Regions from separate parts of the Homo sapiens genome. Here region 2 is linked to region 1. The links come from fine-mapping of genetic effects on gene expression. A gene starts in region 1. The other region holds a variant in brackets. All regions are shown on one strand. Distances are from middle to middle.

Region 1 (8,340 bases):
CAAATGAGCAACAAGAATAGGTAAAGATGTTCAACATCACTAATCATTAGAGAAATACAAATTAAAACTACAGTAAGATATCACATTATACCCAACAGGATAGCTACTATAAACAAATATAGAAAATAACCAGTGGTGGTGAAAACATGGAGAAATTGGAACTCTTATGCACTTTTGGTGAGAATGTAAAATGGTACAGCCACTCTGGAAAACAGTATGGTGATTCCTCAAAAAATTAAACATAGAAAATATGATCCAGCAATTCCACTTTTGAGTATACATCCCAAAAAGTCGAAAGGAGAGACAGGAACAGATATTTGTACCCCCATGTTCATATCAGCATTATTCACAATAGCCAAAAGGTGGAAACAACTTAAATGTTCATTGATAGATGAATGGATACACACAATGTGTTATATACACACAACAGAATTTTGTTCAGCTTTGAAAAGGAAGGAAATGGCCAGGGGTGGTGGCTCATGCCTGTAACCCCAGCACTTTGGGAGGCCAAGGTGGGTGGATCACCTGAGGTCAGGAGTTCGAGACCAATCTGGCCAACATGGTGAAACCCTGTCTCTACTAAAAATACAAAAATTAGCCTTGTGTGGTGGTGGGCACCTGTAATCCCAGCTACTTGGGAGGCTGAAGTGGGAGAATTGCTTGAACCCAGGAGGTGGAGCCTAGATCATGCCACTACACTCCAGTGTTGATGACACAGCAAGAGTACATCTTAAAAAAAAAAAAAAAAGTAAGGAAATGCTGACACATGTTACAACATGATGGACCCTGAAGGCATTATACCAAGTGAAATAAGCCAGTCACAAAAAGGCAGATACTGGATGATTCTATTTATATGAGGTATCTAGAGTAGTCAAATTCATAGAAATAGAAAGTTGATTGGTGGTTGCCAGGGGCTGGAGGGAAGGGGAAGTGGGCAGTTGTTTAATGAATATAGAGTTTCAGTTTTGCAAGATGAAAATCTGGAGATTGGCTGTACAACAGGATGAATGAATGTATGTAACACTACTGATCTGCACACTTCAAAATGAGTACAATGGTAAATTTTATGTGTATTTTATCACAAGGAAAAAAATCACTAGACATCTAACTTTTCAGTAATGTGTCTATTTTCAGTTAAATTTGCCAGTTAACTGAAGCCAATATAGGCCAGTTTTCATATTCCTTAGTGTTATCACACTGGTGCACTTACTGTTTTACCATTTTCCCTTCTGATTTCATTTTTCTGTTAGCATTTACTACTATCTAACATATATTTTACTCATTTGTCTGTGTTCCCCATCAGAATATAACTTCATGAGGGGAGGGATTTTCTATTACACTTAGTGAAAAGTAAATCCCTCAAGTAGGAACACTACAAGTAAGCACAGTTTTTTTTTTACAGTAAGTTTGCTTAATGGCTAGTAAACTATCTCAGCCAGTACCTGAGTGACTATTCTGACTTGTATCATTTAACAAGAAAAAAGGCCTGGCGCGCTGTCTCACGCCTGTATTCCTAGCACTTTGGGAGGCCGAGACGGGTGGATCACTTGAGGTCAGGAGTTCCAGACCAGCCTGGCCAACATGGTGAAACCTCGTCTCTACTAAAAGTACAACAATTAGCTGGGCGTGGTGGCACATACCTATAGTCCTAGTTACTTGGGAGGCTGAGGCAGGAGAATCGCTTGAACCTGGGAGGTGGAGGTTGCAATGAGCCGAGACTGCGCCAGTGCACTACAGTCTGGGTGACAGAGTAAGACTCCGTCTCAAAATAAATAAATAAAATAAAATAAAATGAAAAAAAGTACTAAATGCAAACTTCTTAAGATCACATGCAACTTCGATGTTAAATACTAAATATTCCTTAAATTTAGACAGTATTCAATTTGGTAAAGATCAGAAAGTTATATTTTGTCATTTATGATATCAAGTGGAATGTATTATCAGTGATTATGATGCTTCTCGCAATGAGAGTTATAACTTTCTGGAAAAATCCTTGCTCAAATCATCAAAGTTAAGATTTCTTACTACATAAAGGCTATGAAGAGCTGACGTGTAATTATATTGGCTCTGCAAATATTGGAACAGAAATATGAGTTTGCCATTAGTGTAAGAAAAGCTTCAGAATATGTATGCAAATTTGGCAAATTGAGTTGGTTTTCCCCACGGTACTTCGAATAAAAGAGACATTTTAACAAATCACAGGTTCATAGAAAATCTCTAGTTTCGTGGTCTATTTTCTAAAATAATAGGAAATGAACTTTTAATAAAAGTACATGAGGACTTTTGATGAACGGTTTATTTTTCACAGAAGTGAAGTGCAGGTGAAAAGGGGAAATTCCTAGAATATCTGAAGGATCTGACTAAATGAATTTCTACCTAAGCTATTGATTTACAGTAACTTAAAATGTGATAATTTATCTCCTACAATGGCCTTTCAAATTAAATATAAAAGTAACTCAGAGTAAAGTATGCAGAAAAAATTTTGGTATTGTAACTGAAAATGACCAACATTAATTTTTTTCTCTCACATTAATCAAGCACCTTACTGTTAGAAGGGAAACTGACAAGCCTCCTCAACCGAGTTTATACAAAATTCAACCCCAGAAAGTAAAGCCAATTCGTGCACCTTCATAAGAAAGAAATAAAGGACGAACCTACACATTACAATTTGTAAAGAAACTTCTGTAGAGGCACCATCGTTCTACAACCTTATGCACTTTAAAATCTGAGGTAACAAGGCATTTGAAGATAACCAAGGTTGGCCGGGCGCGGTGGCTCACACCTGTAATCCCCCCAGCACTTTGGGAGGCTGAGGTGGGCGGATCACGAGGTCAGGAGTTTGAGACCAGCCTGGCCAACATAGTGAAACCCAGTCTCTACTGAAAATACAAAAATGAGCGGGCACGGATGGCGCACGCCTGTAGTCCCAGTTACTCGGCAGGGGTTGGGGGCTGGTGGGGGTGGTAGTGCTGAGGCAGGAGAATCGCTTGAATCCGGGAGGCTGAGGTTGTGGTGAGTAGAGGTCGCGCCGTTGCACTCCAGCCTGGGCGACGGAGCGAGACTCCGTCTCAAAAAAAAAAAAAAAAAAGATAACCAAGGTTTATTGCTACTTCCGTGATATCACCATATCACCAACTGCGTAAGCAGTGCTATTTAGTTGAAAATACATGGACTAGACCGAATATTTCTGCAACAGTTTAATAAGAGACGATGATGCGACTACTGCAGCTGTCCCCAGGCAATTAAACTCTTCGGCGAATTTCTTTACTATTGCTTTTGAACAGGGAACTGTTTGCTATTTTAGGGCACTCGTGCGGTAAAGAACTTCACTGAAAAATGCAAATATGTTTTGCTAATGTGGGAGAAAGATGATGATCCTCTGAACCTGTGACTTGGAAGGGGGGATAAAAAAGAACTATTTCTTGAATTCTTGCCTTGCTCTTGCTGATTCGATGCACACAACCCCACGAACATTCAGATTCATGGCTTGACAAAGTGGGGATAACCGGGAGCTGCAGCCCCGTCTTTGAAGCTTTTGTAAAGACAAACGGTCTGCAATGTTAAGCCTTAAATTGGCTTTTGGCGGACTCCAGCCTTTTACCCTTCGTTTGGTAGATGTTTTCACCTCGCTGTCATTAAGCAGGGTCAGGAAATGGAAGGGCCGTGACCGGGTCGCCGCGGGCGCTCTGTGGGCGATGAGGGTCTCCTGAGCGAGCAAGACCAGTCTCTCCCCGACTCGCCACGCGCCACGCGCCGCGCGCCGCGCGCCGGTTCCTCGGCTTCCCACGCCGGGGGCGCATCCTCCCGGGAGCTGCTGCCCTTTTCCAACATGGCGCCGCGGGAGGCGGGTCCCGCTCGTCGGCTCCCGGGGTTCCGGCGCCGCGCGTTTTGGTTCCGGAGTAACAGTGTCGCCGCCGCCTTCCTCCTCCTCCTCTCGCCGCTACCGCCGTCGCCGCCGCCGCAGCCGCCGCCAGTCCGCGCGGCCTCGGGTGGCCGGAGCTCAGCCTGCGCGCGCCGCGCCCTGTGTCTCCGGGTGGGGCAGAAGACTCGCCCCTTGAACCTCCCGCGGGGACTCTCCGTGGTGTGGCGGCCCTGGGGCTCTTTCTTAATAGCCCCGGACTGAGTCCCCTCCAGTCGAGGACCCTCTCCTAGTCCACTGACGAGCGGTGGACACCTGCCGCTGTATCTCCCCCAAACCGAGTCCTTGCCCTGCTGCCTCCTCATACCCACACGGCGGCAGAGACCTTCACCATAGCGTTCGCTCAACTCCAGAACCTTCCGACCTCCGCTAGTTCCTGCGGGCCTTTGCCCGCTTCCCGGTGCACCCTCCCCGGGAGACACCTCAGACCCCCGACAGCCTGGGCAGGCTCGGTGCCTGCGGGTGCGTTCCTGATCACCCCTCCCCTCTTCCCTCCCCCTCATCCTCCATTCCCTTGTTTTCACCCTCTGTCCTCTGCCCGTCACTCCCCTTGTCACCTCTTGGAGCCCCCTCCTAACCAGCGGCCAGTGGGTTTCCCATACCCCAGGATGTGAGCCTCTTTAACCTGTAATGCTGTGGCTAGCCCTTGGCCCCTTTCCTGCCATGGAGAACCAGGTGCTGGTAATTCGCATCAAGATCCCAAATAGTGGCGCGGTGGACTGGACAGTGCACTCCGGGCCGCAGTTACTCTTCAGGGATGTGCTGGTGAGTGGTAATCTCAGTGTCCGGATGCCAGCAAGGGGGACTCAGGGACTTGAGTAGTCAGCACCTTGACCACTGGTGACCTGAGCCAGTGGCAATGGCTACTGCTGGCTTCCTGTGGAGGCAGTTTTATTGCTTCAGGCACAGCATTGATAAATTGCAACCACTAAAACCTGGCAAATGTCTAGGACCCTGGGGAGATAGATCAATCTGACTGAACCCCTGCCCTCAGAGAGCTCATGGCCCGGGCTGGGACACACATATAGACACAACCACGCAAATGCAAACTGCTGAATCTAGAAGAGAGGTTTTTTCCCCCCAAGTGTTTCGGGGAATGTCCTTGGACAGATTCCAGCCTTGTTTTTCTACTGAGTTCTCTGAACTTGGTGACCAGCTGAGAAAGGGAAAAAGGACAACTTTAACTTACCATGTTTGAGCACACTGTTTCATTAATTTATTTTGAGACAGGGCCTCACTCTGTCGCTCAGGCTGCAGTGCTGTGGCACGATCTCGGCTCACTGCAGCCTCTGCCTCCTGGGCTCAAGCGATTCTCCTACCTCAGCCTCCCAAGTAGCTGGCACATGCCATCACACCTGGATAATTTTTGTATCTTGTAGAGACGAGGTATTGCCATGTTGCCCAGGCTGGTCTTGAACTCCTGCGATTTGCTTGCCTCGGCCTTCCCAAAGTGCTGAGATTACAGGTGTGAGTTACTGTGCCCAGCCTGAGCAAACTTAAAGCATCATTGAATGTAAGACATTTTACTTAGAAAAAAATGCTAACCATGACAGTATGACACATCATCCGTTATTAAAATGAGTCCAGTTTCAGAGACGGTAAAAGTAAGGGAAAATGTGCATCTTAGAATTGGTGATATTTTACATTCAGATTTTTCAGAATATATTTCAAATAAAATGATGGAATTTTAGAGCAGAGTGTAACACTGTAGGTGGCCTGTTCAGCTGATGTTTCTTTTTTGCAGATAGTTACTGAGGAGCAGTGAGGTGAAATGGCTTTTCCAAAGCTGTGAGCTCCTGAGTGGGAGAGTCAGTACCAGAACTAAAATTTTGTTTCATTGACTTAGTAGGTTTCTTTCCCTACATGTTGCAGCCGCTTCTAATCTTTCTGGTATTCATTTGAGATAGACAGGGTGCCTTGTGCCCATTCTACATGCAGAATAACTGAGGCATGGAAGACAGAAGCGGACATTCCGAAAAGCACATCACTACCTGCAAGTTAAGAGTGGGCAAGGTGGCAGGATCTTGGGAAGAGGAAGATTTGTGATGTGATTTTTCATTGTCTTGGGTAACTTAATCAAAATTTGATTTCTATAACTTCATTTTGAGTTCTAGATGTTACTGACTGCCCAGGCCATGCAGATTTTTGGGTGCCTTGACCAGGAGCTTTCCATATTGTGCATCAAATGCCATCCTTCTCTTTGTATCCGGAGTTCTCCACACAGTCATGCACATACAGATTTCCCCTCATGATAAGGCCCAGGCTCCTTCATGTGGTCCTCTGGGCACATCTGGATTGGCCCCTGTCTGCCTGGCACCTGTGTCATCTCTCTTCACGGCCCCATAAACTTCTGTGCCTCACTTACATAGGTTGATTTTCATTTCTCCCAGGTGTCCAGGCTGTCTGCACTCTGCTCTTCACCGGTCAATTCCCACCTGTCCTTCCAAGCCAAGTTGTGCTTTTTCTCTGTGTCATTCTTGGTTATGTGCCCCACCTCTGTGTCGTCACAGCTTTGTGTGGGTCCCCCAGCAAAGCACATGTTTGATCATGATTCTTTGTCTCCTCCACTAGATGGTAAACTTCTGGAGGAGATAGATATGTTTGTTTTTGTTTCTTCATAGGACCCCAAAATACTTGTTTAAGAAGGGAGCTTAAAAGAGGATGCATGCAATTATGGTTCTGTGGACAGAACACTAGGTTTAGAGTCAAGGAATTTGGGTTTAATTGCAAGCTGTCCCACTGACTAGGCAAGTCAGTCTACCTCTCTGAGCCTTAGTTTCCTTATTTGTAAAACAGGGAAACTTGTACCTTCCTCAAAGACTTGGAAAGATTATGTGAGATTGTGACTGTGATGAGAAAGATGGGTTTTCTCTTACTCATTTAAAACAATGGAAGGTTGATTATTATGTGATTATATTATTTGGTTATGTGATTATTTCAAGAATAGCCCAGTGTTTAAGACCACAAACTCTGGAGCCAGGTTGTTTAACTTGCAAGTTGTACTACTGGGGCAAGTATCTTCTGTATCTCAGTTTCTTTATTTGTGAAAAAAAAGTTGGGGAGGGGTGAAAGTAATGCCTACCTCCTAGAGTTCTGAGGACTCCTTGAGTTGATACATGTAAAGCACTCAGAACAACTTAGCACATAGTAAGCGCTCCATTAGTGTTGTTATTATTGATGGGATTGTTATTATAAGGGATTGGACTTGGGTCTTCTGTTTCTTGAGCATCTCTAAGTTGTACCTGGCTCAAGGCTGACTGGCTTAACAGGAAACACGAGTGGCCCCACCACTAGAGCTCAGCATGCCAGGTGTCTGCACACTTTTGGCTAGGTAAGCCCAGGTGGAGCATGTTTTGTCAGAAAGGCCTGACGAAGGACCTGTGGCAGTGGGTGTTCAGTGCTATCTCCTAGTGCTCCATTTTAGCAAATGTTCAAGCCCAGATCATGGCAGACTCCTGTGATCTGTTCTCCAGGTTTACTTCATCTCTTCATCAAGAAAAGGCAAGAACCAAGAGACACGTCAGCATCTCTGGCTTGGAACCTTAAACTTTAAAGTCACGTGGAACCTGGAAGAATCCCCTCATCTAATTCAGACTCATTTCGAATGAAGAGGCATGAACCCCACAGGGGGAAAATACCTTGCTAAAGCCACCCAGCTAATTTTTGGCAGAACCTGACACAGATGCCAGAAGCAGGTTGTAGTCACCGAGTCAGCCATAACTGAGTGTCTCGGACCTGAAGTCAGCAGTTGAGGGCTCCAGTCACTGTGCATCAAATAGCTGGGAGACCCTGGGCAAGTCAGTCGGTCTCTCTGGGCCTTGTCTTTTGTCTGAATCATCAGGGACTGGCTGAACTATGGAGGCTGACCTGACCCTCAAAGGTAGAGACATTTGGGTCTTCTGTTTTGCAGCTTTCTGTGTTTCTCTTTTTCCCTGGAGACTGAGTTCCTAGTTTTGGGAAAACTATACAAGAGGTCTGGTTAGTGTGTGATGAGAGAGAATGCCCAACCCTCTCCCCTCTTCTTTTTGTATTCTGTGGTCTCCAAGCTCAGATTTCCCCTCATCTATAAGACTTCTGGGCCAGGAGTGGTGGCTTAGGCCTGTAATGCCAACACTTTGGGAGGCCGAGGTGGGTAGATCGCTTAAACTCAGGAGTTCGAGACCAGCCTGGGCAACATGGCAAAACCCCATCTCTACAAAAAATGCAAAAATTAGTGGGGGCTTGGTGACACTCACCTGTGGTCCCAGCTATTAGGGAGGCTGAGGTGGGAGAATCTCTTGAACCTAGAGGTCGAGGCTATAGGGAGCTGTGATTGCACCACTGCACTCTAGCTTGGGTCACAGAGCGAGACCCTATCTCAAAAAAGAAGAAAACACACACACACACACACACACACACACACAGATTTCTGTCTAAACTGA
Region 2 (8,340 bases), 110 kb before region 1:
AAGCTAAATAGAACTTGGAACATAGTAACTGTGTATATTTACAAAATAAAATCCCAGGCCAGATGTGGTGGCTCATGCCTGTAATCCCAGCACTTTGGGAGGCTGAGGCAGGAGAATTGCTTGAGCTCAGGAGTTCAATACCAGCCTGGGCAACATAGAAAGGTCCAGTCTCTACCAAAAAAATTTTTAAAATAAACAAAATTAGCCAAGCATAATGGCACTCATCTGTGATTCCAGCTATTTGAGAGGCTGAGGTAGGAGGATTGCTTGGGCCCGGGAGGTCAATGCTGCAATAAGCTGTGATTGTACCACTGTACTCCAGCCTGGGCAACAGAGACCCAGTATCCAAAAAAAAAAAAGAAGAAGAAAATCCCAGAAACAGGAGGATCAAGATAGTCTAGAGCAGGAGTTGGTAAACAATGGCCTACAGGCTAAATCTGACCCAGCATTCATTTTATGTAAATAAAGTTTTATTGGAACACTAAAAAATAAATAACTTCTCCAACAATGAGAAACTTGAGTCTTTATCCCTCAATATAGTTACTTCTTTGCTTAGTCAGTTTACTTATTTGTTTAATGTAACTAATCTCCCAACCACTCCTGCCATCTTCTTTGCCTACTCTATCTGTGCCCTACCCCTCCATGCCTCATGTGCTTGGATCCCAATCCTGTCATTTGTGTTTTATTTGTAATACTCTTCATCATACTAAAGTTTCATATAGTCAAATCCAGCTGTTTTTCTTTTTTCTTTTCTTTTTTTTGTAGAGATAGGGTCTCACTATGTTGCCCAGGCTGGTTTTGAACTCCTGGCCTTGAGCCATCCTCCTGCCTTGGCCTCCCAAAGTGCTTGGATTACAGGTGTGAACCACTGTGCCTGGCCTCCAGCTCTTCTTCTAAATTGCTATATTACCTTGAACTTATCACTTTCCCTCATTTTCAGTTTTCTCAGCTATAAAATGAGGAGGTTAGCTTATTTTGCATCTGAGGTAACCTACAGTTCAAAACAGTCTTTATTTCAATAACATTTTAAAGCACTTATTTTCTGTATCAGCAAATTCAAATGTTAATAATAATCATCCACTTTAAAAAAATTATCACCAGGAAATAATCACAAAGATTTAAATACACATATATTAATCACATCATTATTAAGAATAGCAAAATATTTCAAGTAGTCTAAATTCCAATAATAGATTTTTTTTTTTTTTTTTGAAGCAGAATCTCCCTGTGTTGCCCAGGCTGGAGTGCAGTGGCATGATCTTGCTTCACTGTAATCTTTGCCTCCCAGGCTCAAGTGATTCTTGTGCCTTAGCCTCCTGAGTAGCTGGGATTACAGGCACACACCACACCTGACTAACTTTTGTATTTTTAGTAGAGACGGGGTTTCGCCATGTTGGCCAGGCTGGTCTTGAACTCCTGGCCTCAAGTGATCCACCTGCCTTGGCCTCCCAAAGTGCTGGGATTACAGGCGTGAGCCACTGCACCTGATCTCCAACTATAGAGAATATTTAGAGCAAATTATGATAGTTCAATGAAATTGCATACTATGAAGACATTAAAACTAATGTTTTTAAAGAATATTTAACAGGAAACTTTATAGAATAGATAAAGGTAAAAAGCAGATCACAAGCAATATATGCAATATGATAATTTTATAAAAAGAAAAAAATATATAAATGCAGAGTTAAAAGAACCTAAAGATATATACTAAGATGTTACAAGTCATTATTTCTGGACAGCAAGATTGAAGGTGGCAGAGTAATGGTCCGCTAAAGATATCCACACCCTAATTCCCCAAATCTGTGAACATTATGTTGCATGGCAAAAGGACTTTGCATATGTGATTAAGTTAAGGATCTTGAGTTGGGAAGAGTAGCTTGCATTATCCAGGTGGCCCCAATATAATCACCAGGGTCCTTTTAAAAGAGAGGCAGGCCGGGTGCGGTGACTCACACCTGTAATCCCAACACTTTGGGAGACCGAGGCGGGTGGATCACGAGGTCAGGAGTTTGAGACAAGCCTGACCAATATGGTGAAACCCCATCTCTACTAAAAATACAAAAATTAGCTGGGCATGGTGGCACGTGCCTGTAATCCCAGCTACTCAGGAGGCTGAGGCAGGAGAATCGCTTGAACCCGGGTGGTGGAGGTTGCAGTGAACTGAGACCATGCCACTGCACTCCAGCCTGGTGACAGAGTGAGACTCTGTCTCAAAAAAAAAAAAAAAAGAGAGAGAGAGAGGCAGGGGGATCATAGAAAGAGAAGGATTTGAAGATGCTGTGCTGCTGGCCTTGAACAAGGAGGAAGGGACCATGAGCCAATGGCATGAGCCAATGAAGGCACATGGCCTCTAGAAGCCAGAAAAGGCAAGGAAACAGATTCTCCTCTAGAGTCTCCAGGAGGAACAAAGCCCTGCCCACATCTTAATTTTTAGCCCAGTAAGACTTCTGACCCACAGAGCTGAAAAATAATAAATCTGTGTTGTTTTAAGCCAGGAAGTTTGTGGCAATTTGTTGCAGCAGCAATAGGATACTAATATAGAGGGTGGTTGCTATTTTGTTCTTTGTGTTTTCTGCAAAAGTAAACATGTATTATAGTCTAGGCTCAGTGGCTCATGTGTATAAACCCAGCACTTTGGAAAGCTGAGATGGGAGGATCACTTGAGTTCAGGAGTTTGAGATCAGCATAGGCAACATAGCAAAACCCTTGTCTCTACAAAAAATTTTTTAAAAATTAGCTGGACATGATGATGTGCACCTATAGTCCCAGCTACTCAGGAGACTGAGGTAGGAGGATAATTTGAGCCTGGAAGATTGAGGCTGCAGTGAGCCATGATCGTGCCACTGCACTCCAGCTTGAGCAACAGAACGAGACCCTGTCTCAAAAAAATAAAAAGCAAACATGTATTATATTTCTAATCAGAAAAAAATACATGAATAACGATAACAAAAATTTGTATAGAATGTTATTGTTTGCAAAGCACTTTCACATACATGATCTTACTCACATACACACAGGTCTTACAATAAGACATGGGAAACAGAAAACTGAGGTGACTGCATCCATTTCAAATTCATGCCCATTGGCCCCAGCTGGGCCCCATAATTTACCATGCTGACGCAGGAGGGGCAAAGGGGACTGGGGGCCAAGGCAAAATAGATAAAATGACAGCAATGCCTCAAGGACAGTCCCACAATTGTGAATCAACTCCAGAAAAGAAAGTGGAGAATTCTTTCTAGACCTAAGGAGATGAGAATGAGGTTCTAGCAGAATAGAAGAAGTTGTGGAAATGTAAGACTTAAATATTGGAAGCATCAAGTAGAACACACGGTCATTTTGTAATCAAGGAAGAAGGGGCTGGTCCCTGGGAAATGGAGATGGTGGAGCATGGTCTAAGATTACTCCTGCCAGTGGATTTAGGTCCAGGATTTTGGTACCCTAGAAATGGGGAAATTCTAGGCCTTCAGAGATGGCACGCAGAGTACATGGCACTCCAGAATACACAGAGCTACAAGGCAGCCATGTTGGAGATCTG[G/A]CCTTCCCACATAAGGATAATATTATGTAAGGGGATCCAAGCAGTAAACAAATAGCAGCAAAAGCTATTTCCAAATCCTGATGGGTCCTGGAGCCAGGATCAATGATAAACAGTATCTAGTAGGTTCTAGGAGGGATATGAAGTACTTACTAAAGGCTTTAAGTTGAGGAGGATGACAAGTTCATTGAACAAACACCTTCAGAGGACCTACTCTGGCTTCCTGTTAGGTGCTGTGGAAATAAACAAGACATCTTCTGTATCATGACAAAGCTTATTTCATATCCATCGTCCCATTTTATTTGCTATACATGCACACAATTGTTTTATACTTGTATTGATTCATAGGTATAAATATTGCCTCCATGAGATTTTTTTAATCCTTTAGAAAATGTACTAGGCCTTGAATTTTTTTTACCTCTTCATAATGTCTAACACAATGATGGTCATATTTGGCCAGCCACCTGATTATTATTTGTTGATTTATGGACTTTTGGAACTTCTAGATGATCCAGATCTTTTGTAGTTAATTACTCACTTTGGGGAAACTCTAAAAAAAACAAGTGTTTATTGAGCATCTATTATGTATAAGCCATAATGCTAGGTGCTAGAGAAGCTACAAAGATGCAAAAGACATGGAAGTGCCTGCCCTTAGGGAGTTCACATTCTAGTTGGGAAGATAGGCTTGAAAAATGAGTAGCAAGGAAAGGCTTAAGTGACAACTACGTAGAACAATAAAAGAGACATCAAAAAGGTAATATCAGTTTAACGGCCAAATGATTTTTCTACATGCATTCAGACAAGAGAAAGATCCCTTCTGTTGGGAGCAATCAAGAAAGGTTTTGCAGAGAAGGTGGGATTTGAGCCGAAAGAAAATTAGGATATGAGGAGGGTAAGAAAGAGTGTATTCCAAGTGAGAAACAGGCTCACTTGGTGGGAAAGAGTGGTGGGAAAAAGCACAGAACACATATGGATAAAAATGATGATCTAAGTCTTACAAATATCATGTTGGATTCACCTCAAGTAAATATACATTTATATAGCAATTCTCCCATTCCTGTTCCTCATATAAAAGTCTCTAAACAAATAGATTGGCAAAGATGCTCTATATGAAAATTCCCAAATTAAAAAATTCTTTCAGAACAAGATCATGTCCTGCATTTGCAGGGACATGGATGTAGCTGGAGGTCATTATCCTTAGTAAACTAACACAGGAACAGAAAACCAAATACTGCATGTTCCCACTTATAAGTGGGAGCTAAATGATGAGAATACAGGGACACATAGAGGGGAACACCACGCACTGAGGCCTATCAAAGGGTGGAGGGTGGGAGGAGGGAGAGAATCAGGAAAAATAACTCCTGGGTACTAGGCTTAATACCTGGGTGATGAAATAATGTGTACAACAAACCCCCATGGCACAAGTTTACCTGTGTAGCAAACCTGCACACGTACCCCGAACTTAAAAGTTAAAAAAAAACACACATTGTTCTTTATATTTCACAGGAAATTGAATAGATATAAGGTTCATTAATTATCATAGAATTTAGTTGAACATTTCCTACCAATATCAATAGTTTTTTAGATTGTAGCCTCTTGTTTCTTGAGGAGCATGGTGATCTGGCTTTTACCAAATAAAAGCTTCAGGTGATGGAAAAAGGAAAAAAAGTTCTTTTAGCCTGGGCATCAAGACTCATCTCTAAAATTAAAAATAAAAAATTAGTTGGGCATGGTGGCACACATCTGTAATCCTACCTACATGGGAGGCTGAGGCAGGAGGATCACTTAAGCCCAGGAGTTGGAGGCTGGCTGCAATAAGCTAGGATCTCGCCACTGCACTCCAGCCTGGATGACAGAGCAAGACCCTGTCTCAAAAATAAATAAATAAATTAACTCTTATTTTAGATAATTGTGAACTTTGAAACAACAATCTGTATTATAAGCATTGATAGTTAATACTTTTTTTGAAAAAGGAAATTAAAGAAAATCCAAGCTTTAAGAAGAATTGATATGAAAACTAGCTATTGGAGAGTAGTAATGGCCCTTCCAAAACATAAAGTTAGCTACAGAAAGGAAATAAGACTTGTCACAAAGTACAGATTGTGAGGAAAGATGAAAATGGAGGCCCTGATATATACCGCAGTATATCCCATAAAGTCTGAAAACGATTTTTAAGAGTTTCTAAATACAGAATATCAGCCTAGAATAAAAAAAAATCTGAAAATATTTTCATTGCAATGGCAATGGGTTCTGGCCCCAGTCTTTCCACTAACTAGTGTGATACTGTAGACAATTCACTTGACCAATCTGAGCCTTGTTTTTTTGTTATCAACTGGTAAATTCCTGCCCTCTTCCTCACAGTATGTTCTGAGAGGCTAAGCAGATATAAGGTGATGTTCTTATTAAATCAAATGGCATAACCACATGTAAAACTGTCACAGGAGCCCTCAGCAGGTGCTCAAACTGTGAGTTGAATCAGAATTGAATTAGCATTATTTTTAAAAGTCACTGAGCATTATCATCATCTCAAAGTGATATATAAGCATCAAAAATGAATACATTTATTTCAGAGAATGGAAAAACCAAAGTCTACAGAAATATCATAATTCCTTCTTGTTCACTGCTGTATACCCAGCACCTAGCACCCTGTCTAGCATATAATAGATGTTCAATAAATATTTATTTAATGAATGAATGAATACTTCTCTAAATCCCCCTCTAGTACTCTCATTTGCAAGATCTCCCCTATCTCTGTTTTCAAGATATACAAGGTATTCACCAAGGAAGCTCAATGAGATTTACTTTTTCTCTTTAGGGAAAGTATTTTATTTATATGGAAGAAGGCTAACAGAGTATATCTAAATTAAAATGTAATACGCCTTTGGTATTAACAGAAGTACCTATTATTCAGTGTTTTAAAGTGCTATAGTGGGCAGATTGTTAATCACAAGTTAATGCCTAGTGAAGGGAAAATACATCCCAAAGGACTTGGAAGCATTAAAGTAAAAGACCTTCTCCCTTTAAAAGGGCTGTATCTTTGTGTCAATGAAAGAGACCTATAATATGCAAGTAATAGTAATGATGATGGCAATGATGATGACTTCTACAATAAGCACATGGGCAATGATGACAAATTTTTCCAGTGAAAATTACAATTCTGTTTCTTAACACTGATAGTGCAGGTAAACTAGTGGCCAACTTTGCTATGTATATATTACCATTTGTGACTGTCCTTAAATGTTTGGTTAACCCCCCTTACACTGTAAACCTTCACACTGAGAAATATTGAACCCAAGCCTAAATATCAGCTCTTGGGTAGGATTTTGGTTGATCTGCATATAACGGACCTAATTCCTCTGTTTACATCAGCTGTTCCCCCAGGACTTCCTCAAAAGATGCCCATTCTCATCATGGAGCTCTTTGCTTCCTTTCAAATGAAACCAAGACACCTCTCTGCACTTAGGGATCTTTAACTTGAATCACCAGAAACATGGCCAGGGCGAGGAAAATCTGGACACTCACACTGCACCCTGCTGTCTCCAGCAGGTACTACATTTCTGCAGGACTCAGGAGGGCAGGAGGTAGGAAAAAAGGAAAAGGCTCCCTACTAATGCCAAGAAAGACCATAAGATTCTTCACCTATGAGCATTTATAGCTTGCCCCAGCATCCCAAAACAAAGCTGAAAGTTGTTTCTAGTTCCAGCTGTCACCTGTGGTCAAGACTTTTTATGTGATAAATTTTCTCTTACAAAATTGTCCTTCTCCGATCCCAGCTTTATTGAGGTATAACTAACCCAAAAAAAGTATTTTTATTTAAGGTGTACAACATGATATTTCAATATAATATACCTTGTGAAATGATTACCACAATCAAGCTAATTAACATATCCATCATCTCACTTGGATGTGTGTGTGTGTGTGGTCAGAAGTTAAGATCTACTCTCTTAGCAAATTTCAGGTATATAATATGTGGTTATTAACTATAGTCACCATGCTATACGTTAGGTCTCCAGAATTCATTCATCTTATAACTGAAGGTTTGTACACTTTAACCAGCATCTCCCCATTTCCCCCACCTTCCGACCCCTGGTAATCACTCATCTACTTTCTGTTGCTATAAGTTTGACTTTTTTGGATTCCACATGTAAGTGAGATCATGCAGTATTTGTCTTTCTGTGTCTGGCTTATTTCACTTAGCATATTATCCTCCAGGTTCATTCATATTGTCATGAATGACAGAATTTCCTTCTTTTTTAAGGCTAAATAATATTCCAATGTGTATATACATGCATACATATATACACACACACCACAATTTCTTCATCCTTTCATCTGTCATCAACTGACACTTAGGTTGTTTCCACGTCTTGGCTATTATGAATAATGCTGCAATGGACACGGCAGTGCAGATATCTCTTCAAGATTTTATTTTCTTTGGCTACGCACTCAGAAGTGGGATTGGTGGATCATATGGTAGTTCTGTGTTTAAGTTTTTGAGGAACCTCCATACAGTTTTCCACAGTGGCTGTACTAATTTACATTCCCACTAACAGTGTATAAGGGTTCCCTTTCTCCACATTCTCACCAATACTTATCTTTTGTCTTTTCTTTTCTTTTCTTTTTTTTTTTTTTTTGAGACGGAGTCTGACTCTGTTGCCCAGGCCAGAGTGCAGTGGCGTGGCTCACTGCAACCTCTGCCTCTAGGGTTTAGCGATTCTCCTGCCTCACCTACTGAGTAGCTGGGACTACAAGCGCGTCACCACGCCTGTATTTTTGTATTTTTTTTTAATTTTTTTGTATTTTTGTAT

The links. PIP is the estimated chance that this variant, and not a neighbour inherited with it, causes the effect.
Region 2: its variant is the best candidate, but not a certain one, in a credible set for the expression of MAP2K5-DT in esophagus mucosa (GTEx, PIP 0.82).

The regions. Positions count from the first base shown.
Region 1 is chr15:67,538,787-67,547,126 of GRCh38, forward strand. MAP2K5-DT (MAP2K5 divergent transcript) reads right to left here and starts at 3,844. Exons shown (of 1, transcript NR_186334.1): 1 at 2,282-3,844. It overlaps MAP2K5 (mitogen-activated protein kinase kinase 5), which reads left to right and starts at 3,917. Exons shown (of 22, transcript NM_145160.3): 1 at 3,917-4,684. The coding sequence starts at 4,550. RefSeq lists enhancers at 734-823, 2,857-3,357, 3,010-3,059 and a silencer at 3,933-4,052.
Region 2 is chr15:67,426,636-67,434,975 of GRCh38, forward strand. The region is part of intron 16 of IQCH (IQ motif containing H); the gene reads left to right. It overlaps IQCH-AS1 (IQCH antisense RNA 1), which reads right to left. Exons shown (of 6, transcript NR_040052.1): 4 at 3,686-3,765. Among named protein-coding and RNA genes, the nearest start is that of C15orf61, 90 kb to the right of the region's middle. The variant G/A (reference allele first, on the strand shown) is at 3,536.